4 linked regions of the Homo sapiens genome follow. The protein of the gene in region 1 interacts with the protein of each later gene in a biochemical or structural test. Each region holds a gene or a part of one and is shown in the gene's direction. Other genes may lie near its edges.

Region 1 (7,661 bases):
TTTATTTAGAACAATGTAAACATGGAAAAATGAGAAAAAAAAGTCATCAGTCTCCATCTAGTCAAAATAATTACGGTTAACATTTTGGAGTATATGCATTCTGTCTTTTTTTTCTGTGCATATATATTTATATAGGTATCAACACATAAAATTCAAAGGACTCTTTTAAACATTTTTCTCTTTACTCACTGCATTGCTGTTGCTGCAGGATACTTTTTCTTTATGAGCAGGAAACTACACAAGTTAAAACTGGCTTTGGAGATGTACAGCTCATTGTACCAGTAGTTTGCACAGTGAGGTGTACACCCCAGGGAACCAAGGATGCGGGTGTGTTTTGAAATTAATACACCAAATATTTTGAACACTGCTTTACTGGAGTTTGTTATTTTATTTACTTATTTATTTTTCGAGATGGAGTTTCGCTCTTGTTGCCCAGGCTGGAGTACAATGGCGCGATCTCGGCTCACTGCAACCTCCGCCTCCCGGATTCAAGCAATTCTCCTGCCTCAGCCTCCTGAGTAGCTAGCATTACAGGCATGCACCACCATGCCAAGCTAATTTTGTATTTTTAGTAGAGACAGGGTTTCTCCATGTTGGTCAGGCTGATCTCAAACTCCCGACCTCAGGTGATCCGCCCACCTTGGCCTCCCTGGGATTATAGGTGTGAGCCACCGCGCCTGGCCTATACTGGAGTTTAGTTTATCCACTGGGCAGGTTGCTCAAGTTCAAACTCCCTAAGCAGATATTCAGCGAGTATCTTACATAACTGGCACAAATGAGGTCATATCACGGTCAGAACCTCTGTATGCATTTATCCCTCCATCTACTTCATTGATAAAATGTCTGTGTTCGTGAAGTGTATTTTGATAAGGAGACTATCTCTCCATCGTCTAATAAAATGAAACTTATGCATGGTGTGATGAGGTTTTTTACTTTGTATGTAGCAACAAAGATATGTTATGGGAAAGACAGCTTCCTCATTCCCAGGGAAGTCATTTTCTTCTGAGAGTCTGAGTTTTATTAAATCACCAAGTATCATCTCCCTGTTTGTGCTCCCAATGTTGGTTAACAAACAAAGAGCAGCCAGGGGAAACCCTGCCTTTGATAGTCACCATACATACAGTATGCTGTTTTGGTTATCAATTGCTATGAAACAAACCACCCCCAAATTTAATAGCTGAAAGTGATTTATTATAATTTCTCACAGTTCTTGGTGTTGACTTAGCTTAGCCAGGGAGTCTTCTGCCGGTCTTGCTTACAGTCTCTTGTATGTGACTGCAGTCATATAGCAGCTGGAGCTGGAGTTCTTTGGGGGCTTGAATAGGTGGGCTCGAAGGTCCAAGATGGTTTCTTCATTCACATGTCTGGTGTGTTGGTTCACATAGTCTCTCTCTCTCCATTTAGAGTTTCATCTTCCATGACTTTTCCCATGGCCTCTCTTTCCATCAAGGTAGTCAGACCTCTTAGGATGATGGCTGACTTCCAAGAGTATAAAATTAAAAGCTGTCAGGGCTTTTTCAAGCTTAGGTTAAAACCTGGCATAATGTCACTTCTGGCCTCTTTCCATACCTTAAAGCAAGTTGCAGGGCCAGCCATGCTTGTTTCAATATGAGGGGACTAGACAAATGCCTCAATATCAGGAGAGGTGGTTTACTGGGTGCCATCTTTGGAAGCTTTCTATACTTTACACTGGACAAAGTAGAATTTCAACTACAATTCTAAAAGATTATGAATATTTTCTGGCTCAAACATGGAGAACAATTGAGAGGAAGTGACAGAGAGAGGAAGAAGCCTCAAAGTGATGGAGGATTTTGAAACAATCGGTACTTTCTTGCACCTTGCAACTTGGCAGATTGGAGCACAAAGGAGGTGGAACTAAGGGGTCAATGCATCACCATTATCCAGACTTCTTATACCCAGAAGACTTACTTGATGATACTTTTTTTTTAGACAGAGTCTCACTCTGTCGCCAGGCTGGAGTGCAGTGGCGTGATCTCGGCTCACTGCAACCTCCGCCTCCTGGGTTCAAGCAATTCTCCTGCCTCAGCCTCCCTGAGTAGCTGGGACTACAGGCGCATGCCACCACAACCAGCTAATTTTTGTATTTTTTAGTAGAGACAGGGTTTCACCACGTTGGCCAGGATGGTTTTGATCTCTTGACCTCGTGATCCGCCAGCCTCGGCCTCCCAAAGTGCTGGGATTATAGGCGTTAGCCAGAGCACCTGGCCAATGATGCTTATTTTTTATGAGCAATCTGGAGCAAGGTATCACAATTGACACATCTCAAGCATGTAGGGAAGGCCGTCTTCCCAAAGACAGCAAATGATTCAGGAATCAATGAAAAGGTACAAGAGTCAATAGAACATAAAACCAATTGGAGGGTATTTTTCCCAAATAGTAGCGAGGAGAGCCTGGCAGCAAAAAAGGATCCCATGGCAGCAAGACAGGAGAGAAAAACCAGCACCTCCTCTTTCTTGTTCTTTCTTGCTCCTCCAGAGCTTCTCAACATGCATTATCTGTGCCCTCCTAACACAATAGGCAGGTTTGGAGGGCAAAGCAAGGGCTCAGGCTCTCATATGAAGACAATCACATTCCAGAGTCTGCCAAGATTGGGCACCTCCTTGACGTGGGTGGTCTTGAGAATGGGGTTCCCTTTATTTGGCTAAACCAAATGCCAAACAGCTTTTCCTTAGTGTTTGTTTTTCTTAAACAAGTTCAAACTCTTATCATATTGCTCCCCTCCCTTTGAAAATATGTACTCTGCAGATGCCTGAAATAACACACTCTCAGCAAATTGCAGCATTGGAAAAGTGAAGGTTATTTCATTCAGTCTAAACTCAATGGAAATTTTGTGGCTTAACAAGGAAATACCAAATACTTTATAAACTCCTTTAGAGCAGTAACCATGTCATATGACTCTGGTATCTCCTACCTACTAGGCTCATTGTCTACCTTCTCTGATGTCGTAATTTTAATAAGTAACTTGAATTGTTAACAATTTACTCTTGTCTTTTTCTTGGACTCAGAAATGTTATTTTATTATTATGTCTCTGCATCTTTCATGTGAGGTCCTTTGCAAACAGTTTTCTCCTAACTTGTTTTCATTGTGCAGATCATGTTGCAGGGTTTTCACATAACAGCTGAAAGGAATTAATAGGAGTTAAAGAAGCTTGCTTCAATTACAAGTAATTAATTTAGGCTTCACTTATCTCAAGGAATATCTGAATATACAAATTTACACATAAATCCTGGGAGTGTCAAATTATGCAACCTAGAGAAAGTAAGCTCTGCAGCTTTTTGGGCGTTGATTGCTATAGTCAGGGGTGTGTGTGTGGTTTTTGAATGAAATAGCAAAACCACTGCCAGTATTATCTACTTCACCTGGTTTTGAATAATTCCAGGAAGCTAGAAACTGAAAACCAGTCTTGTATAGAGTTAGAAAGATTGTAAATGCAGAAGAGGAAGAAAAAAACAAAACTAAACCATTTATCTATCCTCTTTGAACCCTTATAAGAGTTCACAATATTCCTCGTTTCAAATACTTGAAGTCTTCTCTGGGCAATGATTAATTTTTAAATAATTGTTTTTAATGTAAGACATAAAACATACGCACTGCAGATTTAAAGCATACTTGGAAGTAACAAGGAGAAACATAAAAATCGTTGATTCCACAGCATTTAATATATTGGTAACCTTCAATTTTTTTCTAGGCACGTTTTTATAAAATGAGCCAATACTATACAAACGTTTTTGTAACTTTTTTTAATTTGTACTATTTTGTGAGTACGTGAAAAAGAAATTTGTAAAGAGTAAACGATTACAGCATGTTGTGGTATTACACACTGTTGAAGGGCGCCATCTGTGGCGTGGTGGCTGCGCTTTGGTGGGAAGAGGTTCTCTTGGGGTTCCCGTTTTTCTCCCAGCTCTGGGTGGGCAATACTGACCACTCTCCGACCTAAAGGGGCTTCTCCGTTTGCCTTTGACGACCTGAGCTTAGGAGAATGGAGACACGTGGGAGTTCAGAGGAGGGCGTTCAGGGTGACTGCGAACACGAGCTGCCGGAGCTGTCCACATCTCCCCTAGGCAGGGCCCACTGGCCCCAGCCCGGGAAGGGAGCAAGGGCGGGAGGGCAGTTGGCAGTGGCACGGTCTGGGTCCAAATCTTTAGCCCCCCCCACCCCGGCTGGCGCCATTCTCGGGCGGTAAAGTGAGATAAAAGCAGGGCAAGGTTCTGCAACTCCAAATCAGGGAGGCGCAGCTCCTACACCAACGCCTTTCCGGGGCTCCGGGTGTGTTTGTTCCAACTGTTTAAACTGTTTCAAAGCGTCCGAACTCCAGCGACCTTCGCAAACAACTCTTTATCTCGCGGGCGAGAGCGCTGCCCTTATTTGCGGGGGAGGGCAAACTGAACGCCGGCACCGGGGAGCTAACGGAGACCTCCTCTAGGTCCCCCGCCTGCTGGGACCCCAGCTGGCAGTCCCTTCCCGCCCCCGGACCGCGAGCTTCTTGCGTCAGCCCCGGCGCGGGTGGGGGATTTTCGGAAGCTCAGCCCGCGCGGCCGGCGGGGGAAGGAAGGGCCCGGACTCTTGCCCCGCCCTTGTGGGGCGGGAGGCGGAGCGGGGCAGGGGCCCGCCGGCGTGTAGCCGATTACCGAGTGCCGGGGAGCCCGGAGGAGCCGCCGACGCAGCCGCCACCGCCGCCGCCGCCGCCACCAGAGCCGCCCTGTCCGCGCCGCGCCTCGGCAGCCGGAACAGGGCCGCCGTCGGGGAGCCCCAACACACGGTCCACAGCTCATCATGATGGACTTGGAGCTGCCGCCGCCGGGACTCCCGTCCCAGCAGGTGCTGCCTCGGCCCTCTGGGCCCTGCGGTGGTGCCGGGACGGGGGCGGGGGAGCTAGGGAACCGCGGCCCGGGAGGGACAGCCGCAACCGGCTTCCCCCACGTCTGGCCAGAGCCAGGACCGCGGCGCTGGGTAGAGCCGCCGCGCTTGCGCCGGGGCAGGGCGGGGAGGGGCAGCGGGGACGCGGCCGGGTGATCCGACCGACCACGAGCCCGAGGGCGAACGGGTGGGAAGTTGCGGGAAGGTCTGGGGACTGAGCCCGCTCGCGTGGGCCTTGGGGGAGAATCCAGCCGCGTCCCCGGGCCCGAGAGCTGGGACTCCGGAGCCCCTAAGTTTGAGCGGCCCGGTGGGCGGCGGGGCAAGAGGGGGCGGACGCTGGCCGTCTGAGCCGGCGCGGCCCGGCCCTTCCGGGGCTGCGCGGCTCCCCCGCCTCGGTGCCGGCAAAAATGTGCCTAGTCACGGGGCCGCTCTCGGGGGAACTGAGGTCGCCTTCGGGCTGGGACCCGGAGCCCCTTCGCCGCGCCCCAAGACCTCCTTGAGTGCGGGCTGCGACGCGCTCACCCCGCTGGGCCGTCTGTGGGCGCGGCTTTGCGAAGTCATCCATCTCTCGGATCACTCTCTGGCAGCCTTGAGCTCTCTTGAAAGCCCAGCCCCGGGACGAGGGAGGAGCGCCTTAAGTGCCCAGCGGGCTCAGAAGCCCCGACGTGTGGCGGCTGAGCCGGGCCCCGCGCACTTTCTCGGCCGGGGAGGGGTTCGGGCTCGGGCACCCGGAGTTGGCCCCTCGTAACGCCGCGGGAAAGTGCGGGCGAGGGCAGTGGACTCTGAGGCCGGAGTCGGCGGCACCCGGGGCTTCTAGTTCGGACGCGGTGCCCCCTGGTGGCGCTCACCGCGCGCGTGGCCTTGGCTTCCGTGACAGCGCTCGGTTGGCCGTCACAGCAGCCCTCGGTTGGCCCTTTCCTGCTTTATAGCGTGCAAACCTCGCCGCGCCAGGGCCAAGGGACAGGTTGGAGCTGTTGATCTGTTGCGCAATTGCTATTTTCCCCAGAGCGGCTTTGTCTTTGGATTTAGCGTTTCAGAATTGCAATTCCAAAATGTGTAAGACGGGATATTCTCTTCTGTGCTGTCAAGGGTAAGAGTTGCGAGTGTAGATTAGAATTTCTGTTGCTTTTAGTCTGTTAGTAATTTTTTGCTTTCAGCTATTATTTCTCCCCTGAGTACTTTATATATGTTTCCTTTTCAGTTGAGAATTTGCCTCAATTTCTTAACATGTTCCCCCTCTTCTGCAGGGGCAGAGAGTGGAACGCTTGCGTTTCAAAACACTTGCTAATTTCTGTGAATTGTTATAAAAGTGAAAAGAAGTTTCTGCTCATCCTTTGTAGAAACTTTAAAAGTAGATATTTATATTTCTAACTTCTTTTGTAAATGAATTTTAGGAAAAAAATTGGAATTCAAGGAAATGTGTACTTGATGTACAGTAAATACGTTTATGCTGTTAAATGTAAAGTTTTCGGTTAATTCCAAAGATCTATTGTAAAGTTTTAAGTTATGGACAATGTATTAATTGTGCTTTTTTCCCCCTTTAAAGTTGTTTGTCTTGAACTTTTCCCCAGTCTTCATTGGGATTGTATTCTTCTGGTTCCAACTAGTGAAGAATTAAATTGTACCTTCCGATTTATTTAATAGCTGCTGTTCAAGAGTTATCTATAGGAATGCTTGTTTGACTGAAGGATATATGATAAAAATGAACTTTAGTTTTTCTGATTTCCGGAATTGTCTACAGCCCTCTATTATTTTTGAATTTTTCTTTCTTTGCTGTGTAATATAACATTCCTTATACAAAAATGCGTGAAACATATGTACCGCATTAAGTGTGTATTTTCCAATTACGTTTGATAAAAATAACTGCTTTTCTACCTTTGTAATCAGACATCGATTTGCATATTTGAAAACAGAAAAAGAACAAGAAAATTTAGAATTGATTTTGTTTATGATTCATATTAGATTGTTGTCATCCATAAAGATTTGAACAGAGTCAAACATTTTCTTGACCTTTTGTCAAAAAAAACTCTCCAGGTGTGAAGTGGTAGTAGGATATAGTTTTTCACCTTCTGTGCAGAGGATGTGTTGATAAACAGGGCAGTAAGGAGAGCCTTAGATTCAGTATCTCCATTAGGTGGAAGGAACCATCCATTACTCTTTTCAAGGGTGTCTTGGAGAGATAAAGCACTTTCCTAGATGAGGGATGAAGTTGATATTGAAATAGACCGATGAGATTATTTTTAAGTCAAACAAAAGAAAAATAGGACAGGCCTCTCATCTCCTGAATGAATGTTAAGCAAAGAACAACTTGACTTTTTAGATATGTGAAAAATCTCTTGAGAGGTTGTGGAAGCAGCATGTAGGAGGATAAATGCATAACTCACATCAGTCTTTTACGCATTAAAAATAACTTGGGCCATTTTGAAATCTTTCTTTCTTGCCCTGGGTTCTTATAAGCAATGTTGGGGGGAAAACTGACTCTGTCTTTAGGATTACCAGGAAAAGTTGAAAGCCAAATGCATCATTTTTCTTAATATTTGTTTTTATTGAGGATAAATCATGTTTAACAAAGCTGCATGAAAAAAAGGAACCCAACAAGTACATTTTTTTTTCTGGGAATTTCCTCTGTCCTGACTGAAGACATTTAAAGGGGGTTTTGTGTCAATATTTCCTCCTTAACTGTTCCTCAAGCCTGGGTTAACTTTTCAGTATGCAGGAAGAATTTGGCACTAAGATAATAATAGATAAGTTACTGGGCACGTCCCTGGGTGCCAGACATAAT
Region 2 (7,028 bases), on another chromosome or scaffold:
GGGGGGTCGGGGGGATAGAGTCTCACTGTGTCACCCAGGCTGGAGTGCAGTGGCATGATCTCAGCTCACTGCAGCCTCCGCCTCCTGGGTTCAAGCGATTCTCGTGCCTCAGTCTCCTGAGTATCTGGGATTACAGGTGCCCACCAGCACGCCCGGCTTCTTTTTGTATTTTTAGTAGAAATGGGGTTTCACCATGTTGGCCAGACTGGTCTCAAACTCCCAACATCATGTGATCCACCTGCCTCAGCCTCCCAAAGTGTTGGGATTTGACTCCACATCTTGATCACATCTTTCCCTTGTTTCTCTCTTCTGTCTCTAGCCCTTGTTCTCATCCGCTTCCCCACTTCAATTTTCCTCTTATTTTCTCTTTCCTAGCTTCCCCAGCTTCCCCTCTTCCATCTTCCTTACAACTATTCCTATGAGTAATGCCCCCTAGCATTGCCTCTTAGCCTGACATTCTTGAAACCATACAGTTGAAACCCTGTTAGAACATTACCACACTGTACTGTTTTCCCCGGCATTTGCTTACCACTCCGTAAGCTGTTGGTGCAGTTTCTGCACATCTAAGATTGTTCTCCACCAGTAACTTGTATTAAGAGCAATTATGATCATCACTATTGTGCTCTCACCGAGTGCCTATCACTGCTCTAAGCACTTTACATGGATGAGCCTACATAATCCTTGCTTGAAGGAGATATAATTTTCCAGATGAGGAAACTTAGGAAGATAAAATAGCTTGTCCACAACCACAGAGTGGCAGAGCCAGAATTCAAATGCAGGCAGCCTTGCCCCAGATCCTACACTCTGAGCAGATGGGACCCTAAGTTAGTTGCTCGTAATCCTGATTCAGGTGTCCTGGCATGCCATGAGTCACACTCACACAGGCTGTTCTCTGCTGTGATAAGAAATTGAAATTTGGACCCACTATTTGCTTCAATGACATTTAGAATTGATAACTCTTTTTATTTTCAACTTAAATGGTAGTATCTCAGTAGGACACTCACAGCTTTAAATCCCATCAAGATTTTAACTCATCACCATTCCGAAGAGATCTTACTTAAATGATTTTTTTTGTGTGTGTTGTCTGTCAGGAATATAAATTGAAGATATAAAAGCCAGCACCCGCAATAATTCTGCAACTGGTAGGAGGCAACCCAGGACCTCTTGGTGACCTTAATAAGGGTCTTCTTTGGCTTATCCAGGATGTGACCTTCTGCAGCCTCCAGTATTAGACATTCCAGGGCATTTTCTGCCTTTTAAAAAGCATCTGATTCTCATTCTGGTGTTTAATCAGAGAGAGACCGTTGGCCTCTTTCCATTCCTCATGGGAGAGCTCCATTTTTGTGCTCACATTTTTCATCTTTGGTGATACTCAGGGTTGATGTTTTAGTGGGCTAGACTTTCTGCATTGGATTAAAACCTTTCACATGAGCTTGGTGAATTCTCCAGTGACCAAGTCCCCTGGGGGCCTCCAACCCTATAGATTCCAGCATGATAAGAGTGGAAAGGAGTCCGGAACATCATGCCTGGGGTATAGTGAGCACTCACACCATGGATTTATTTTTTCATTTTCCAAGCCCCCAACCATGTAAGGTATTTTATAAACATTATTTTATTTGATTCTCCCAACAATTCTATACCACTGGAATTATGTCCGTCTTCATTTTTCTAGATGAAGAGACAGAGGCTCAGAGACTAAGCTTCCCAGTGCTCAGGGTTACATGGTGAAGGAGGCAGAGTTTGCATGTACACCTGCTGAGCCACAGGGACCATGCCTATGTGTTTTATTTGTGTGCTATCTGCTCCCTGAGATGAATGAGGTTAGATATTTTCTTAGGAGAAGAAATACTTGGAAGGCACAAATGGGGTATGACAAACTATGTTCAGCTTCTCTGTGGCTAGCAGACCTGAGCTAGCCCCCTCCCCCTCTGTATTTGAATATAGTCCCATCTGTTACCTACCTATGTAAGGCTTCCAGGTAAGGAGGATGTAAGGCTGTTGGCTGGCAGGAGGCAGAACACAGTAGATCCACAGACTAGTAAAGGCAATGCCTGTCTCTGACTTCCGATCTTAGGGCTGTACCTCCCTCATTTGTGTCCAAAGACCCAACATCTTTAGGGTTCTCCCCCTGCCTCCTCCCCATCTAACCCTGCCCACTGACAACTCCAGTGCCTTCTTCTCAAGTTCTTCTGTAATTCTTAATTTAATAATCAAACTATGCTGATAAACTATGCTAATTGCCTAGATCTGTGGTTCTGCAACTTTTATGGACATCAGAATCACCTGGAGGCTTGGTAAACACAGATCATTGGACCTCACCCCAGAGTTCTGATTCAGGAGGTGTTGCCAGTGCCGCCGGTCCAGGGACCACACTGTGGGAACCACTGAATCAGGGAGCCTGGTCCCAGTTATATGTGTGTTGATGGTGTCTGACCAGTTGGGTATCTGATAATTCAGCCTTACTGGGAAAGATGCCATGGGAAGATAGGAAGGCATTTGAGATAGGAGACTCAGGCTTTTGTCCCTTCATCATAGCAGTAGATAATTATCTTTTACGTTGACGTGCAGTGGCTTTAGACAGCTTCTCATGGTTGTGAGCCTCTGCCAGCTCTTAAATCTTTGAGCCTGTTTTCCTCTGTGGATGAAATGGCCTTTCCTTCTAATTATTTTTGATTCCCATATCAGGTTTCTCAAGCTAAGATTGCATTGGAAGCACCTGGAGGTCTTGTTAAAGTGAGGATTCTGAGTTATTAAGTCTGAGGTGGGACCCAAGGTTCTGCATGTCTAATGAGCTCCCAGGTGATATAGATGCTGCCGGTCCATGGACCAGCAATTCTGAGTTACAACTGTATACAGCAGTGGTGCTTGCCCCTGCTGCCCAGTAGAATCACCCAAGGAGCTTTTAAAAACGAATACTTGAGCCACATTCCTTGGAGATTCTAGTTTAATTCTGGGGATTAGAATTTTTAACTCCCCCATTCCCCAACCCCCATGTGATTCCAATGTACAGTCAGAGTTGGAAGCCATTGGCCTTTACCCACAAAAAGGGATAACACCTTCTGGGAGCTCAGGTGCGTGTGTGGCACCATAGACCAGGTTGGGCTGGTCGCTTCCATGCAGGGAGGGTGCACCATTACTCCTGGGGAGCTGCAAAGGTCACCTGGGAATCTTGTTAAATTACAGATTCTGCTTTGGCAGGTTTGGGGTGGGACCTGGGTTTCTGCATTTCTAATAGATATCTTAGTGTTGCTGATGCTGCCAGTCCAGGCTGGTGCTAAGTCCCAAGACCCACCCACAAGGGCCCACACGATGCCCATTATCTCTGCCGGTGGTGGCAGCGGGTAGCTTTTCTCATGTCGAGTGTTAGAGGCTTTTGGCTTCCACCATCTGTCTCCTTAAACGCCATTCTGACGTCTCTTTTATTCAGCTTGGTATTGACACAAGACAGCGGGCAATATAGGTCTGTTCTCTTTTTGTAATATTTTCTTCCTTCTCTCTTCACAGTACGAGATGCAAAAAATCTAATCCCTATGGATCCAAACGGGCTTTCAGATCCTTATGTGAAGCTGAAACTTATTCCTGATCCCAAGAATGAAAGCAAGCAAAAAACCAAAACCATCCGCTCCACACTAAATCCGCAGTGGAATGAGTCCTTTACATTGTAAGTGGTCTCTCCTTGATCAAATTTCATTCCTATACACCATGCAGTTGCCCACCTCATTATTTGAGGTAATGAAGTAGGTTCATTATAAACGTCTTTAAACATGTCTTCAGTCCTAAGACCTCCTCAGGCTGCCATTAGGGAGGTAGCTATTAGCACCTGTTCGATAGATAGTAATTTGATTTATCAAGAGTTGCATAATTCAGGCCTCAGATTATTATTATCTAATCTGGATAAACAATTCTATTTAAGGAAATAGAATTAAGGTAAATAGAATTTAAGCTAAAAATGTGTCAGGTGTGTCCACCTCTTGATGGACTTAGGTTCTTTTGGGAGTTAGGGGAGGGCATAAGGCAAGAATTTAAATAATTTTTAGACCACAGAATGAGTGAGTAACATAGAAAGTGTTATTGCCACTGAAATGGGAAGATCATTCTTGCCTTCAAAGAGAGAAGACTTCCTGGAAAAGGTGACATTTAAAGCCAGCCTGGGAGGGTTGCCAGGATTTCAGAGGTAGAGAAGGGGAAGAAGGAAGGAGGGAATAAATAAATCAGGAGGACTGAGTGTAGCTGAGGGAAAGCAAGAGTTCCCCTTTGTAGAGTAGTATACAGGAAGCAGTTTTTCTGTGGACAACCAGAAAGGTAGCTGTCTGTTCTAGAGGGACCAGCAAGCTCTGCTCTATAAAGGATCAGATAGTATATATTTTAGGCCTTGTGGGTCATATAGCCTCTGTTGCACCGGTATAACTTTCTAGTGCCAAAGGAGCCATAGGCAATATGTAAACAGATAGCCATGGCTGGGTCCTAATAAAACTTTATTTATAAAAATAGACAGTGGGATAGATTTGGCCCATGGGTCATAGTTTGTTAACTCCTGTAGCGCTTTGCTTGCCAGCATAAGGGGTTGGTATTTTACTGGACCAGGAAGACAAATATACTATTTCTTTATCTCAGGCTCGAGTCATATACATGTGGTATCTCCCAAGAAACCATGATCAAGATAACCTAGTGTTTGCATGTGTGTGTGTCTTGTAGCAAATTGAAACCTTCAGACAAAGACCGACGACTGTCTGTAGAAATCTGGGACTGGGATCGAACAACAAGGAATGACTTCATGGGATCCCTTTCCTTTGGAGTTTCGGAGCTGATGAAGATGCCGGCCAGTGGATGGTATGGAAGCCGCTTAGGTTGAGTATGTCTCAAAGCATCAGACCATTTAGACAGTTAGGTTTCAGTCTCTCAAATGTCAGTTGAGGCTGGACATGGTGCCTCATGCTTGTAATCCCAGCACTTCAAGAGGCCGAGGCAGGTGGATTGCTTGAGCTCTGAGGTTTGAGACCAGCCTGGGCAACATGGAGAAACCCCACCTCTACAGAAAATACAAAAATTAGCCAGGTGTGGTGGTGTACCCCTGTAGTCCCAGCTACCCAGGAGGCCGAGGCATGAGGATCACTTGAGCCCAGGAGGCTGAGGCTGCAGTGAGCTTTGATTCCGCCACCGTCCCCCAGCCTGCACAACAGAGCTACCCTGTCTCAAAAATATAAAAATGTAAAAAAAGTCAAATGTCTACTGATCTGGCTGTAGCCTCTCCGTAGGATGCGTTTCACAAAACCGCTCGACTAGAGGCTGCAGGAAAGGCTTGTTAAACTTGCGGTGGTAACTCTTCTTCTCCCGTCCTTGAAAGGTACAAGTTGCTTAACCAAGAAGAAGGTGAGTACTACAACGTACCCATTCCGGAAGGGGACGAGGAAGGAAACATGGAACTCAGGCAGAAATTCGAGGTGAGGATAACAAAATGCCCGGAAACACCTTTCCTTTAGAAAGCCCAACTTCAGGAACGGCCGAGATGTTGTGGTCACATTTTTGAAAAGCAAAAAAAAAGTAATCTCAATGTTAATGATCTTTTTCTTTATTTAAAAACATGAATGTTGTTCGTTCCCTTTCCTTTGCAAGCTGTTGACTTTTTATGACTCTTACCACTTAGAAAATGGAAACTGGAAATATCGCAGAACTGAGAGCATGGTTGATTTCTGCATAAGAGATCTGTTTGCACATCACTGGGGAGAGAAGCAGGCTCTGAGGGCAGGATTGTTCTTACAAAGGAGGACTTGTGCTCTTCTGAAAAGGAGGAAGTCATTTTGGCCTTTCCTTGGGAGCTCATTTGTGTGTAATCAGGCTATCATCTGAGACTTTTTTTTTCTACAGAAAGTACAAGGTTCCTAATTTTGTTCTGAAAGAGCAGCTTAAACAAATATGCCTTTGTGTGTGATCCCTTTTTATTTATGCTCCAGATGTTTAGCAAAGGCCACCTCCTTCTCTTCTTCCTCTTGGTATTTGTGTTTGCCTCTGTCCCGGATTCACTGGTCTTTTTACTTCTCCTCCTCTGCTCCTTACTCCTCTTTTTCTTCTCCTCTCTCTCCCTTCTCCTCTTCATTTACCGACATCTCAGCTTTTAGTAAACGGTTCTTTTCTGTAAGCACCTTCCTTATGTTTTAAAGGCACAACTTCTAATATTTGTCTGTTTCTCTAATCACCCTTCATTTTGGCTGTTCGAGGGACTCCTAGAGTAGCCTTTTCAGTCTGTGTAACTGGTTAATTCCTTCGTGAATCTTTCTCTTCTTCAGACTTGTTAGAATTCCCTGGAATTTCCCCGCTCTAGAGCAGTACACGTGCACACGCACACATGTGTGTAGATGCTGAACTGCTACTGAAATGTTGACACTAATGGGATGCTGATGCTCCTCTTTTCCTTCTTCTGTTGTTCTCCAAGAAACATACAGATCTGGGGGGTGGGGAAGAGTGGTCTTGGGGGGATAATAAACCTCCTTCATGCCCCCCACAAAAGAAACATATAGGTCTTATCCAGAGAGAATGAATCCCAAAGGATGTAAAACATGCAGTTGTTCAAATTACTTTGTTAAACTGATGTTTGGTTAAAGTTGATGTTTGTGGCAAATACTAAATGGCAGGGGCTCTTTGGTTAGATGTCCTTGGGAGCACAGACGAGTGAAATGATTCACAGATAATAAATGGCAATGAACGGCAGGCCTCGGGATTGAAGCAGGAGGGAGTGGTGGAGACTGGGGTGAGCTGGTAAGCTTCAGCTCTGTCTGCAGGTGGCAGCTACGGCTACCCTGCCCCACTCGATGTTTCTCACAGGCGAGTCCAGGCCCTCTATTGCCGGATCTTCCTTCTTCCAGAGAAGCCAGAAATCCAGGTTTTTATATGATACATTCTGATTTATCTTAATGTTGGCAGAGTTCTAATGTTAAAACTTAGAACCAGGCCCTGTGCAGTGGCTCACTTCTGTAATCCCAGTACTTTGGGAGGATGAGGCAGGCAGATCACTTGAGGTCAGGAGTTCAAGA
Region 3 (7,028 bases), on another chromosome or scaffold:
TAGGTCTTATCTCCTAAACTTTGAAGGGGTAGGTGTTAAAGGAGCCTCAGAGATATTAAAGGTTAGGTTAAATGGGGTTGAAACTTTGAGAGTAAACAAAGTAGAAAAGTGTAGAAAATTGTAGAAATTTAGAGGATGGTGGAATGGTTGAAAGACGGGATTGCACTCACAGCCAAAAGGGAAGAATGACTGTTCTGATATTCCAGCTCTGTTAGGATTCTGCTGATTGGGACACTCCTTATCCTGAGCACCCCTCACCCTCACTTTCTCTCTCCTTCCCTAGCTTCTTGCCCAATGATCTGGGCTTCACTGATAGCTACTCTCAGAAGGCTTTCTGTGGCATCTACAGCAAAGATGGTCAAATATTCATGTCTGCTTGCCAAGGTACCAGACCCTGGTCCTATAAACTATCTTTTCCTGGAACATGGGACATTCCCCCTGACTGAGGCTAGAAAGCCACAGACGGGGAGCTCAGACCTGGCTTAAGGATGCTTAGCCAGACCATGTTTCCCATGATAAAGGGAAGACTCCACAGGTACACTGAGTGGGAGATGTCTAATCTAGAAAAGTTACAAGGAAACTGTCCCATAATTCTGCCTGATCTTTACTTACACAGACCAGACAATCCGACTCTATGACTGCCGATATGGCCGTTTCCGTAAATTCAAGAGCATCAAGGCCCGCGACGTAGGCTGGAGCGTCTTGGATGTGGCCTTCACCCCTGATGGGAACCACTTCCTCTACTCTAGCTGGTCTGATTACAGTGAGTATGCACCAGGCTTCCACTGACTCTCCAGCCTGGGACCTGAGGTTTCCATGTGCCTGTCCCCTCTGAGCCAGGATCCCTCACTTTGTCCTGGGAAAATCACTCCCAAAGTGCTCCAGTACCCTTGTCCCCTGTTTGATCTCTTCCCTAGCTTCACTTCCACTCTTCTTCCCCCATCCCTGAAAGATTCTTGTTTTTCTTGCTTCTCTTAGTTCATATCTGCAATATCTATGGTGAGGGAGATACACACACTGCCCTGGATCTCAGGTACTGGCTTCCCTTTCTGGTCAGACTCATCAGAAACTTCTCAAGGGAAGCTCTTTGGGAGCAAACCTCTTGAGTTGGAAGTTCTGTTTAGGGGAAAAAGTATACTGGTGGGTCTGTGTGCATTCCTGGGAGGGAAGCACCATCTTGTCAGCCAGAGGACTGGGTAAAATAGATGGTTGCAGGATGATTTCTGGGTTCTCACTGAGCATCTGCATTATGGTGCATGTTAGCCAGACTTCTTTTTTCCCCTGGGGATGTGCCTTACAACCGTTGTCAGATTTTATGTAGATTAACAAAAGCTGAAGGAAGTCCACTTAACCCAGCTCCTTCTTGCTTTTAGGCCAGATGAGCGTCGCTTTGCTGTCTTCTCCATTGCTGTCTCCTCAGATGGACGAGAAGTACTAGGAGGGTAAGTGCTTGTGGGGTATGTTTCCCTCAATAACAAGATGGGGGTTCTGCCAGAGATGAGTTCTGCTGTTACACAGATGGCACTGGCAGCTGCAGAGAACAACCAGACCTTCTCCCAAGGTCAGGATTTACAAGTTGCTTCACCCCTTGCTCTCCATTTCCCCAGCACGAGATTGGAGGTGTCAAGCCTCCTTGAAACACAGCTAACTCTTCCCCCACTTCCTGTATAAAAAGAGCAAAGGGCTTGACCCAGAGCAGGATTTCTCAGTGGAACTCTCTAGAGCATATACCACGTTGGTCCTCTCGATCATGGCTCCAGGACCCTCCTTTATCCCTTCCCTTTCAGGGCCAATGATGGCTGCCTGTATGTCTTTGACCGAGAACAGAACCGGCGCACCCTTCAGGTATGGCTCCTGAGATAGAGCCTCTGCCTCCTGGTTTTTGGCTTTTTATAAGACCTAGAAAGAGGTCTTATATCCTGGCCTCCTTTTCGCCTAGATTGAGTCCCATGAGGATGATGTGAATGCAGTGGCCTTTGCTGATATAAGCTCCCAAATCCTGTTCTCTGGGGGAGATGATGCCATCTGCAAAGTGTGGGATCGACGCACCATGCGGGAGGATGACCCCAAGCCTGTGGGTGCACTGGCTGGACACCAGGATGGCATCACCTTCATTGACAGCAAGGTGGGCCAGAAGTCAGGACTGTACAGCCAGGCCGCTAAGGTTCTAGTTGCCCAGGAGGGCATGAAAGCGGACTGGTGTGGGAATTTGACAAGCTCCTTATTAACCAAGGTTTGTAAGAGTTGGAGTTTAGGGAAGGGGCTCAAGCCAGGGAACATGAATTCCATCTGTACTCACCAGTCCTCAAGGAGCAGGGCAGGGCTTTCCGTACAAGAAAAATGGAAGACCGGTCAGGTACAGCGGCTCACACCTGTAATCCTAGCACTTTGGGAGGCTGAGGTGGGAGGATCACTTGAGCTCAGGCGTTCCAGACCAGCCTGTGAAACCTAGCGAGACCTCATCTCTATTTATTTAAAAAAAAAAACAAAAAAAAAAAACTAAGGCCAGATGCCGTGGCTCATGCCTGTAATCCCAGCACTTTGGGAGGCCGAGGCGGGCAGATCACGAGGTCAGGAGATCGAGACCATCCTGGCTAACATGGTGAAACCCCGTCTCTACTAAACATACAAAAAAATTAGCTGGGTGTGGTGGCAGTCGCCTGTAGTCCCATCTACTCAAGAGGCTGAGGCAGGAGAATGGCGTGAACCCGGGAGGCGGAGCTTGCAGTGAGCCGAGATCACCCCACTACACTCCAGCCTGGGTGACAGAGCAAGACTCCATCTCAAAAAAAAATTAGTTAATTAAAAATTAAAAAAAGAAAAATGGAAGACAATCTGATTAAGGCTAGAATAGGAAAGCCGGCCAGTAGCCTGGGCAAGGAAAGGAAAACCTAGCCAGGTGGTAGGATCTGAGGCAGAACGCTGGAAATGAGTTCACCTGGATGAAGAGAGGCAAGTAAAGCCAGAGGCCAGAGTTCTTCTGCTCAACTAGAGAACGGGAACTAGACTGACAGGCGCCGACATTTGCAAGCTCTGATGCTTCACTATCCACCTTTGGATTCATAGGGTGATGCCCGGTATCTGATCTCCAACTCTAAAGACCAGACCATCAAACTCTGGGATATCCGACGCTTTTCCAGCCGGGAAGGCATGGAAGCTTCACGCCAGGCTGCCACACAGCAAAACTGGGACTATCGGTGGCAGCAAGTGCCCAAAAAAGGTGAGACTGGAAGTACAGGCACAGTGGATTTGTCTGTAGCCTGGGAGCCCTGGAGGACCTCCCCCTCAGCCCTCTTTGCCAGGCATTAACTCTTTATTTGCTAAATCATGGATGGAATGGCCAGAGGTTCCTAGGATTGGGGCCTGGGTGGGGGTCACTCAGAATCAACCAATATAAAAGTATGTGAGTGTAATGATTAACCGGCAGGGCCATATTGGAGACTGTCCACTGACTATTAGGTGGAGAAAGAGCCACCACTTGAAGATTGGAAAGGCATTTGTCTCTGGGCATCGAACCTTGCTCAGGACTGGTGGTACGAAACAATCCCAAAGCAGATTTCCTAACCTAGGGTTTACTCTGCATCCCTACCCAGCCTGGCGGAAGCTGAAGCTCCCAGGGGACAGCTCCTTGATGACCTACCGGGGCCACGGAGTGCTGCACACCCTCATCCGCTGCCGGTTCTCCCCCATTCATAGCACTGGCCAGCAGTTCATCTACAGTGGCTGCTCCACTGGCAAAGTGGTTGGTAAGGATTGTGTCAGAACAGGGGGCCTCAGGAAGGGCAGGAATGACTCCTTGCCATTCCACCTATAACGACTAGTGACCACCTTAAAAAGCCCAGTGACAGCTACAGGTAAAATCAAACTTAGCTTGGAGGCTTAAACAGAGAAATAGAAACCATTCTATTTTTCAGTGTTTTAAATTAAGAAAAGGAACATAGAATTCTAGACAGTAAATATAATAGATTGCCAAAAATATAGTTGGTTCTGTTTTTCAGCCAGTCAAGAAAGAGGTTGCAGATGAAAGGTAGGAGGGAACAGAGACAAAATGACACAGGAAGATGGTAGCAAGTAGTTAAGGGACATGCAGTCGCTAAAGCAGAAAAGCATAGAAAGAAATAAGCTGGCTGCAGTGGCTCATGCCTGTAACCCCAGGGCTTTGGGAGGCCAATGAGGGCAGATCACTTGAGCCCAGGAGTTTGAGACCAGCCAGGGCAACATGGAGAAACCTTGTCTCTACAAAAAATGGCTGGACATGGTGGCACAGGCCTGTAGTCCCAGCTACTTGGGAGGCTAGGGTGGGAGAATCACCTGAGCCCGAGACTGCAGTGAGCCATGATTGTGCCACCGCACTTCAGCCTGGGTGACAGAGTGAGAAACTGTCTCAAAAAAAAAAAAAAAAAGGTCGGGCACGGTGGCTCATGCCTGTAATCCCAGCACCGTGGGAGGCCGAGGCGGGCAGATCACCTGATGTCAGGGGTTTGAGACCAGCCTGGCCAACATGGTGAAGCCCCATCTCTATTAAAAACACAAAAATTAGCCAGGCATGGTGGCAGGCGCTGGTAATCACAAGCTACTTGGGAGGCTGAGGCAGGAGAATCGCTTGAGCCCAGGAGGCTGAGGCAGGAGAATCGCTTGAACCCGGGAGGCAGAGGTTGCAGTGAGCCAAGATCGCGCCACGGCACTCTAGCCTGGGCAACAAGAGCGAGACTCCATCTCAAAAAAAAAAAAAAAAGAAAAAGAAAAAAAAAACCAGAAGCACAGCTGCAGATACAAGGAGCCTAAGGCAGTGCTGTCCCTAGAGAGACACTCACAGTCCCATGACAAAAGAAAGATGCACCCTGTCCAGATAAGGTGCAGCAGGTGCACACACCCCCAGACAGCTCATTGTTCACTTTTGTGGTGCCTTCCATATCTTACTAAAATCTTCAAAGCCAGTGCATTTCCTTAACTGTAGCCCCTATGAAATTTAGCTAAGGGCCAGACATACCCACACCACTAAACCATACCCTCAACCCAAGGTATGGAAAGGAACAGGGATAGAAGCAGAAATAACACAGTCTTCTGGTGTGGGCTTTGCTCCCATGGGAACATGGGAAGTTGCCTGAGAGGCAGGTCAGTGGTGCTACTCATGGGGAGGTGAGGGATAGTTTAGATGTCTTGTGGTGGTCCCTCTCCACTCTTGCCTGTCCTGGACAGTGTACGACCTTCTAAGTGGCCACATTGTGAAGAAGCTGACCAACCACAAGGCCTGTGTGCGTGACGTCAGTTGGCACCCCTTTGAAGAGAAGATTGTCAGCAGTTCGGTGAGGTTGCAAGGGTTGAGGGTGCTGGCACATGTCTGGGGCTTGGACTTGGGTGGGGGCAGCACATCCTGACTGCTTGCCACCCTCTGCCCTGCAGTGGGACGGGAACCTGCGTCTGTGGCAGTACCGCCAGGCTGAGTACTTCCAGGATGACATGCCAGAATCTGAGGAATGTGCCAGCGCCCCTGCCCCAGTGCCCCAATCCTCTACACCCTTTTCCTCACCCCAGTAGATCCAACCTCCAGCCCCATATAGGGTGAACCTCTTGATAAGCTCTCTGCCTCCTCCTCCCTTTCTCCCTTGTGGGGAATGTTTGGAGGAATCACTGGCATTTGATGGGGAATAACATAAGCCTGGGCTCTGAGCCTCAGCTGAGCCCTGGAAGATTCTCCCCATGGGGCAGAGTGGTCTCCTTACGTGCTCACACCCAGTCAGCTTGGGTCCCTATCTCTGGCCAGAGTTTGGCAGGACTGCCATTATCTGGGGTGTGGCCTCTGCCAGCAAGAGAAGTGTCCTGGGTGTTTTTAATCATGTTTGAATGTTAGGGGTTGGATCCTAGAGTAGATGCCTGAGGCCACATCTGAACAGACCTGTCAGCCAGGCCTGCCAGGTCTTCACGTTGAGGATTCAACTGGCCAATCACAGGACAGGTGTCCTGGCCTTTCTTCCTGAGGTCTCTAGGGGAGGGGCATGGGTAAGGGTGTTTCCTCAGCACCCTCCTGGGGTGGGGATTATGTCTGCTGTCATGTCTGGGTCTTTAGGGTAGGACAGGCTGTGGTATGAGAGGCAGGAGTCTCCACAAGGCTTCATGTGGCCCCTTATAGGGCAGGCCCTGCCCTCTGGGAAGGTCCCTTCATGCTGGAGGCACACAGCTTTAAGGAAGTAGGTTGAAGTAGGACTCCTTCGTCCTCTCACTGGCTTTGGCTCCCTCAATAAACTGTGTGGGAACCTGGCTCAGTGTCTGTCTCTCTCTCTCACTCTCTGTTTTTCCTATCTGAGGTCTTTCATCTCCTCACTTCAGGAAAACACAGTTCAGCAAAGTCTTCAGATGCGATCCTGTGTAGGAGAAAATACCCTTCTGGTGCCCCATGAAAAAGGGAAATACCAAAACCATTTGTTCACTGAGCCTTGCAATAGGTGCTCCCTTACCAATTTCAGAAGCTTCCCTGCAAGTAGATATCGAGAGAGCACACTTTCCATTAGAGCCTGGTAATACCCATATCACCTCTGCTCTGAGGCTGGGCCTGCAGCTGTGTAGTCTTTGGAAGAGGTAGCCCCTGAACGCAGAGCCTAAGAGAAGCAAGTCGGCCCTGACGCCAGGCCCCAGTGGGCGCCTCACACTCAGAACCTCATACCCCAGAGCAAACCGATGGTCAGGGAGAGGGCTAGAGCTCACACCCAGCTCGGAATAGATCTTCCCTGATGACATTTCATGCCCTCTAAGGCAGTTTTTAAATGAAGGTACACACATCCAGGGGTGTTCACAGGCTTTCACAGCAAGGGTACCTATTTCATGGCAAAATAGGCAGTTTTAAAAGAATAAACAAGCTAGGTGTGGTGGCTCATGCCTGTAATCCTAGCACTTTGGGAAGCCAAAGCTGATGGATCGCTTGAGCCCAGGAGTTTGAGACCAGCCTGGGCAACATGGCAAAACCCCATCTCTACAAAAAATACAAAAAGTAGGCCGGGCACGGTGGTTCACACCTGTAATCCCGGCATTTT
Region 4 (5,042 bases), on another chromosome or scaffold:
AAAGCATCTTCCTTTGTTTTCTTTTTATTTATTTATTTTTTTTGAGATGGAGTCTCACTCTGTCACCCAGGCTCCCAGGCTGGAGTGCAGTGGCGCAATCTCGGCTCACTGTAACCTCCACCTCCCAGGTTTAAGCAATTCTCCTGCCTCAGCCTCTCAAATAGCTGGGACTACAGGCATGCACCACCACGCCTGGGCTAATTTTTGTGTTTTTGGTAGAGACAGGGTTTTGCCATGTTGGCCAGGCTGGTCTTGAACTCCTGAACTGAGGTGATCTGCCCGTCTCAGCCTCCTAAAGTGCTGGGATTACAGGCGTGAGCCACCGCGCCCAGCCTATCTTCCTTTATTTTCCTTGGCTTCTTATCACTGCCCCCTCCCCTTGGAGACAGATGAGAAAACTCAGGTTCTCATGGCGGAGAACCTGAGAGGATTGGCAAAGTAGATCCTATCAGCTAGAGACAGAGAGGACTGCTGCTTTAAAGGGGACTTTGGGAGATGGTCCCCTTCTCCAGCCCAGAGCAATGACCACTGACCCTCCACGAGTTTTATTCACCTTTTTCTCCCCATTACCAAGTACATGTTTGGCAAAGAGCTCAATAAATAGTTGTTGAAGGAGCATGTGGCTGTCAGGCCTGTGGGAGGGAGGATTAGGAGATGAGAGGCCCTCATTGGTCTAGGGATGGCTGCCCCATCTGCCTAGGGCATGCTGAGTTAGTATGGGGCAGCCCCCAGGAGGTTGGGAAAACTTTCCCAAAACAGAGGTCTAGATGAAGGAGGCCTGGGGAGAGAGGGGACTGGCTGATGTTGTATCTTACGGGGTGCTGGATGGGCTTTGTGTAAAGGCATTTACTGGTGCACATATGCTGTGTGTACTTTTCTGTATGTAGGTTATACTTTAAGAAAAGTTCTGAAAAATTGGCTGGGCACAGTGGCTCACACCTGTCCAGCACTTTGGGAGGCTGAGGCGGGTGGATCACCTGAGGTCAGTAGTTCAAAACCAGCCTGGCCAACATGGCGAAACCCTGTCTCTAAAAATAAAAATAAACTAAAAATACAAAAAATTAGCTGGGCGTGGTGACAGGCACCTGTAATCCCAGCTACTTGGGAGGCTGAGGCAGGAGAATCCCTTGAACACGGGAGGCGGAGGTTGCAGTGAGCCAAGATCGCGCCCCTGCACTCCAGCCTGGGTGACAGAGTGAGACTCTGTCTCAAAAAAAAAAAAAAAAAAAAAAAAAGAAAGAAAGAAAAAGAGAAAGAAAAGTTCTGAAAAATCAAATCAAAGGCACATGTCCAAGCCCCATGTGGAAGAATGGTCAGGAGAGGCACATCTATTCATTTGGTGCACACTTACTGAGCCATCTACTATATACCAGGCACTGATTTAGGCATATTGATGCCGTGGTGAGACAGGGAAGGCCTCTGCCTTCATTGGCTTCCGTTTTGGTGGAGGAGGAGTGGGAAGGAGAAACAAATCATAGATGAGGAACCAAGCATGAGAAATGCAGAAGAGGTGACTGTTACAAGGGTTAATAGGCGGGGTTATGTGATGTGACACAGAGGCGTTTAGCCAGAATGGTCAAAGAGGACCTCCTGAGGAGGTGACATTGGGCAAAGACCTAAATGATGAGGAGTCACCATGGGGCTAGAACAGTAAAGAGCACAGCCTGTGCACAGCTCCCGCGGCTGGAAGGAGCCATTCAAGGAGGCCTGTGGACCAATGTGGAGAGAGGAAGGTGGCAGGTATGAATCAGTTCTAAGATAGCAGAGGCCTTGAATGGCAAGGTAGTGAGTTTGGATTTTATTCTAAATGGGAAACCAAAAACAAAACAGTGACTTTGACCTCCTTTCTACCCTAGGTCTGCAGCCCAGAGGGCACCTTCTGCAAACATGTCTGTGGATCCCCTATCCAGCAAAGCTCTAAAGGTGAGGAGGCAGCCTCTGTCAACCCAGTGAAGCCCTCCCTCCCTGCCCATGCAGAGCCTCCTCATCCCAACTTCCCCTTCTTTCCTGGAATCCCCTGGGTGGCTCAGCAGGCACCAGGCCTTCATGATGCCAAAGGGAAGGGCCACAGCCATGGGCTGGGACCAGGAGGCCTGGGCTCTGGTCACAGGCTGCATGTCCCTGGGGTAGGTCACTTCCCTCTCCAGGCCTCCTTCCCCATCGGGTCAATGTCCCCTGGGGCATTCAAAGGTGCTTTCCGACCTGGGTTTCTCTGGCTGAGTCCAGGGCTTGGCGCTAGGTTAGAATTCAGGCTGAGCCCCGGGGTGGCCTCCTTTTGTGTCCCGATCCTAGTCTGGCCCGGTTTCCCCTTCCCGGATTCCTGCTCCCCTTCGGGGTTTTGGATCAAGTCCACCCACCACCTCGGCGGCTAAGGCGGTGAAAGAGGAACACCGCGGGTGGAGCGGGGGGGCCCGTCCCCAGTCCCCTGGACCTCAGTTTCCTCATGCCCGCAGATCAAGCGAGAGCTGAGCGAGAACACGCCGCACCTGTCGGACGAGGCGCTGATGGGGCTGTCGGTGCGCGAGCTGAACCGGCATCTGCGCGGGCTCTCCGCCGAGGAGGTGACACGGCTCAAGCAGCGGCGCCGCACACTCAAAAACCGTGGCTACGCCGCCAGCTGCCGCGTGAAGCGCGTGTGCCAGAAGGAGGAGCTGCAGAAGCAGAAGTCGGAGCTGGAGCGCGAGGTGGACAAGCTGGCGCGCGAGAACGCCGCCATGCGCCTGGAGCTCGACGCGCTGCGCGGCAAGTGCGAGGCGCTGCAGGGCTTCGCGCGCTCCGTGGCCGCCGCCCGCGGGCCCGCCACGCTCGTGGCGCCGGCCAGCGTCATCACCATCGTCAAGTCCACCCCGGGCTCGGGGTCTGGCCCCGCCCACGGCCCGGACCCCGCCCACGGCCCGGCCTCCTGCTCCTAGTGCCCGCCCCCGCCATGCCTCAGCCACGCCCCTCCGGCCTCAGCTCCCTCCCCAAAGTGCCTGAGCGCCGCCTCTGTGCCCAGGTCCCATTTCTCTGCAGCACTGGCCCCTTGGTGCACACACATTCCCTTCGTGGGCCCTGTCTTCCTCTTGCAGCCCCCCAAACTGGGACCGAATGACCCTGGGAAGGGGAACTTGGGTAGGTTGGGGATGGGGCAGAGGTCTGGATCTGGGATCGCCCTTGGCTGAAAGTTTAGCCTTTTTAGATTGAGAGATACAGAGCCGGCTTAGAGAACAGCTGTTGGGGGAGAAGAGGGCACCCCTCATCTTGGAAACTGCTCTTATTGTGCCAATATGCCCTCCAAACCCTCCCAGGATTCAAAGCTAGGTTTGGCTGTCTGTGACTTACGGGACCGTCCTGCTGAGAAATTGCACTGAAGAGATGCCCCCACCTCTGGTTGGGCCTGGGGGTGCCTGGCCTTCCGAAACTAAAAGAGTGGGTGGGAAGACTAGTGAAACCCAGTTCACGGATGGGGAAACAGGCCTGAGGTCACATTTCACTTAGTGGTTGTGTTGGGACCAAAACCTGGGTGTCCTCACTGCTGCCCTGAGTCCAGCCATGGTTTTCAGGGGGACAGTGGACAGGGACTCAGAAATGTGGTGGGAGGGCCTCCCTGGCTTGGGAGACCGCTCTCTGCAAGGGAGGGGGAGAGAAGCAGAGGGAGAGAGAAGGTGACACGGATGGAAGAGTGGGAAGGAGCTGGCCTGGCTCAGCCCTAGGCTGTCCCTGCAGCCAGGGTGTCCGGGGGCTGGCCAGTCAGAGAAAGGGGGCCATGGACTGCTGTGGCAAATAGGGAGACAAGGAGACAGACCCTGCAGTCCTACTACAGTCTGGAGTGGGGTCCTAAGAAGAAGGGTCCCACCTCAACCCCTGTCAGTGTCCACTGTGGGGTGGGGGCTGACCCCTGCCTTTGATTGTCATTCTCCTGGGAAGCCCAGTCTCAGTCCCTCCCCCAACACTGTCCACACTGCCCCTCCCCACTGTTTATTTATTGCACGGATCTAAGTTATTCTCCCCAGCCAGAGCCCGAGCTCCTGCTCCCTGGGAAAAGTGGCGTATGGCCCTGAGCTGGGCTTTATATTTTATATCTGCAAATAAATCACATTTTATCTTATATTTAGGGAAAGCCGGAGAGCAACAACAAAAAATGTTTAAGCCGGGCGCGGTGGCTCACATCTGTAATCCCAGCACTTTGGGAGTCCAAGGAGGGGGATCGCTTGAGTCCAGGAGTTTGAGACCAGCCTGGACAACATGGTGAAACCCCATCTCTACAAAAAATACAAAAATTAGCCATGCATGGTGGCTCATGCCTGTAGTCCCAGCTACTTGGGAGGCTGAGGCAGGAGGATCACTTAAGCCCAGAAGGCAGAGGTTGTAGTGAGCTGAGATCGCACCACTGCACTCCAGCCTGGGCAACATAGCAAAATCCTGTCTCAAAAAAAAAGTTAAAAAATATTGCCCGGCTCCTAGAATTTATTTATTTCCTGACTTACAGCAAGCGAGTTATCGTCTTCTGTATTTTGTAGACTTTCTAAATAAAGTCAAATTCTTTCTTTTTCCACAGAGAATAAATGTGTATCCTGGACTATGTTTTTTGGCGAGGGGTGTCTAAAATGGGGTTCTGCTTTCAACCCCTTAGGGCTTCTGGTGGCGGGGAGGGCTAGTGCACATCACCAGCTATTGCACAGGGTATGAGGTGGAGGGGAGATGGCGACAGAGACCAGTGATGCTGAAACTTCGATGCTTCCTCTTGGTTGCTTAGAGCACAGGAGCTCCTGGGAAGACAAAGCCATGGGCACAATGAAATTTAGGACTGGATTCTGGCGGAGCATGGTGGCTCACACCTGTAATCCCAGCACTTTGGGAGGCTGAAGCAAGAGGATCATCTGAGACTAGGAGTCCAAGAGCAACCCGGGCAACATAGTGACACCCCATCTCTACAAAAAATAAAAAATAATTAGCCACATGTGGTGGTACACATGCCTATTGTTCCAGCTACTGAAGAGGCTGAGGTGGGAGGATCACTTGAGGCCAGGAGTTTGAGACCAGGCTGGGCAACATAGCAAGAC

Evidence for each region.
Region 2: of the proteins of NFE2L2 (region 1) and PRKCA, one has a biochemical effect on the other in vitro, tested with the Homo sapiens proteins (one study listed by BioGRID).
Region 3: of the proteins of NFE2L2 (region 1) and DCAF11, one has a biochemical effect on the other in vitro, tested with the Homo sapiens proteins (one study listed by BioGRID).
Region 4: the proteins of NFE2L2 (region 1) and MAFF form a complex in vitro, tested with the Homo sapiens proteins (one study listed by BioGRID).

The regions. Positions count from the first base shown.
Region 1 is NC_000002.12:177,261,711-177,269,371, reverse strand, and holds the start of NFE2L2 (nuclear factor erythroid 2-related factor 2), read left to right. Parts: upstream 1-4,644; 5' UTR 4,645-4,795; coding exon 4,796-4,840; intron 4,841-5,240; exon of another isoform or gene 5,241-5,969; intron 5,970-7,661.
Region 2 is NC_000017.11:66,683,607-66,690,634, forward strand, and holds part of PRKCA (protein kinase C alpha type), read left to right. Parts: intron 1-3,504; coding exon 3,505-3,661; intron 3,662-4,695; coding exon 4,696-4,830; intron 4,831-5,344; coding exon 5,345-5,441; intron 5,442-7,028. UniProt on the Homo sapiens protein: Calcium-activated, phospholipid- and diacylglycerol (DAG)-dependent serine/threonine-protein kinase that is involved in positive and negative regulation of cell proliferation, apoptosis, differentiation, migration and adhesion, tumorigenesis, cardiac hypertrophy, angiogenesis, platelet function and inflammation, by directly phosphorylating targets such as RAF1, BCL2, CSPG4, TNNT2/CTNT, or activating signaling cascade involving MAPK1/3 (ERK1/2) and RAP1GAP.
Region 3 is NC_000014.9:24,117,772-24,124,799, forward strand, and holds part of DCAF11 (DDB1- and CUL4-associated factor 11), read left to right. Parts: intron 1-283; coding exon 284-384; intron 385-616; coding exon 617-763; intron 764-978; coding exon 979-1,033; intron 1,034-1,373; coding exon 1,374-1,442; intron 1,443-1,787; coding exon 1,788-1,845; intron 1,846-1,939; coding exon 1,940-2,125; intron 2,126-3,066; coding exon 3,067-3,220; intron 3,221-3,593; coding exon 3,594-3,746; intron 3,747-5,199; coding exon 5,200-5,306; intron 5,307-5,403; coding exon 5,404-5,538; 3' UTR 5,539-7,028. UniProt on the Homo sapiens protein: May function as a substrate receptor for CUL4-DDB1 E3 ubiquitin-protein ligase complex.
Region 4 is NC_000022.11:38,211,967-38,217,008, forward strand, and holds the end of MAFF (transcription factor MafF), read left to right. Parts: intron 1-1,606; exon of another isoform or gene 1,607-1,717; coding exon of another isoform or gene 1,718-1,740; intron 1,741-1,856; coding exon of another isoform or gene 1,857-1,887; coding exon 1,888-1,923; intron 1,924-2,453; coding exon 2,454-2,912; 3' UTR 2,913-4,541; downstream 4,542-5,042. UniProt on the Homo sapiens protein: Since they lack a putative transactivation domain, the small Mafs behave as transcriptional repressors when they dimerize among themselves.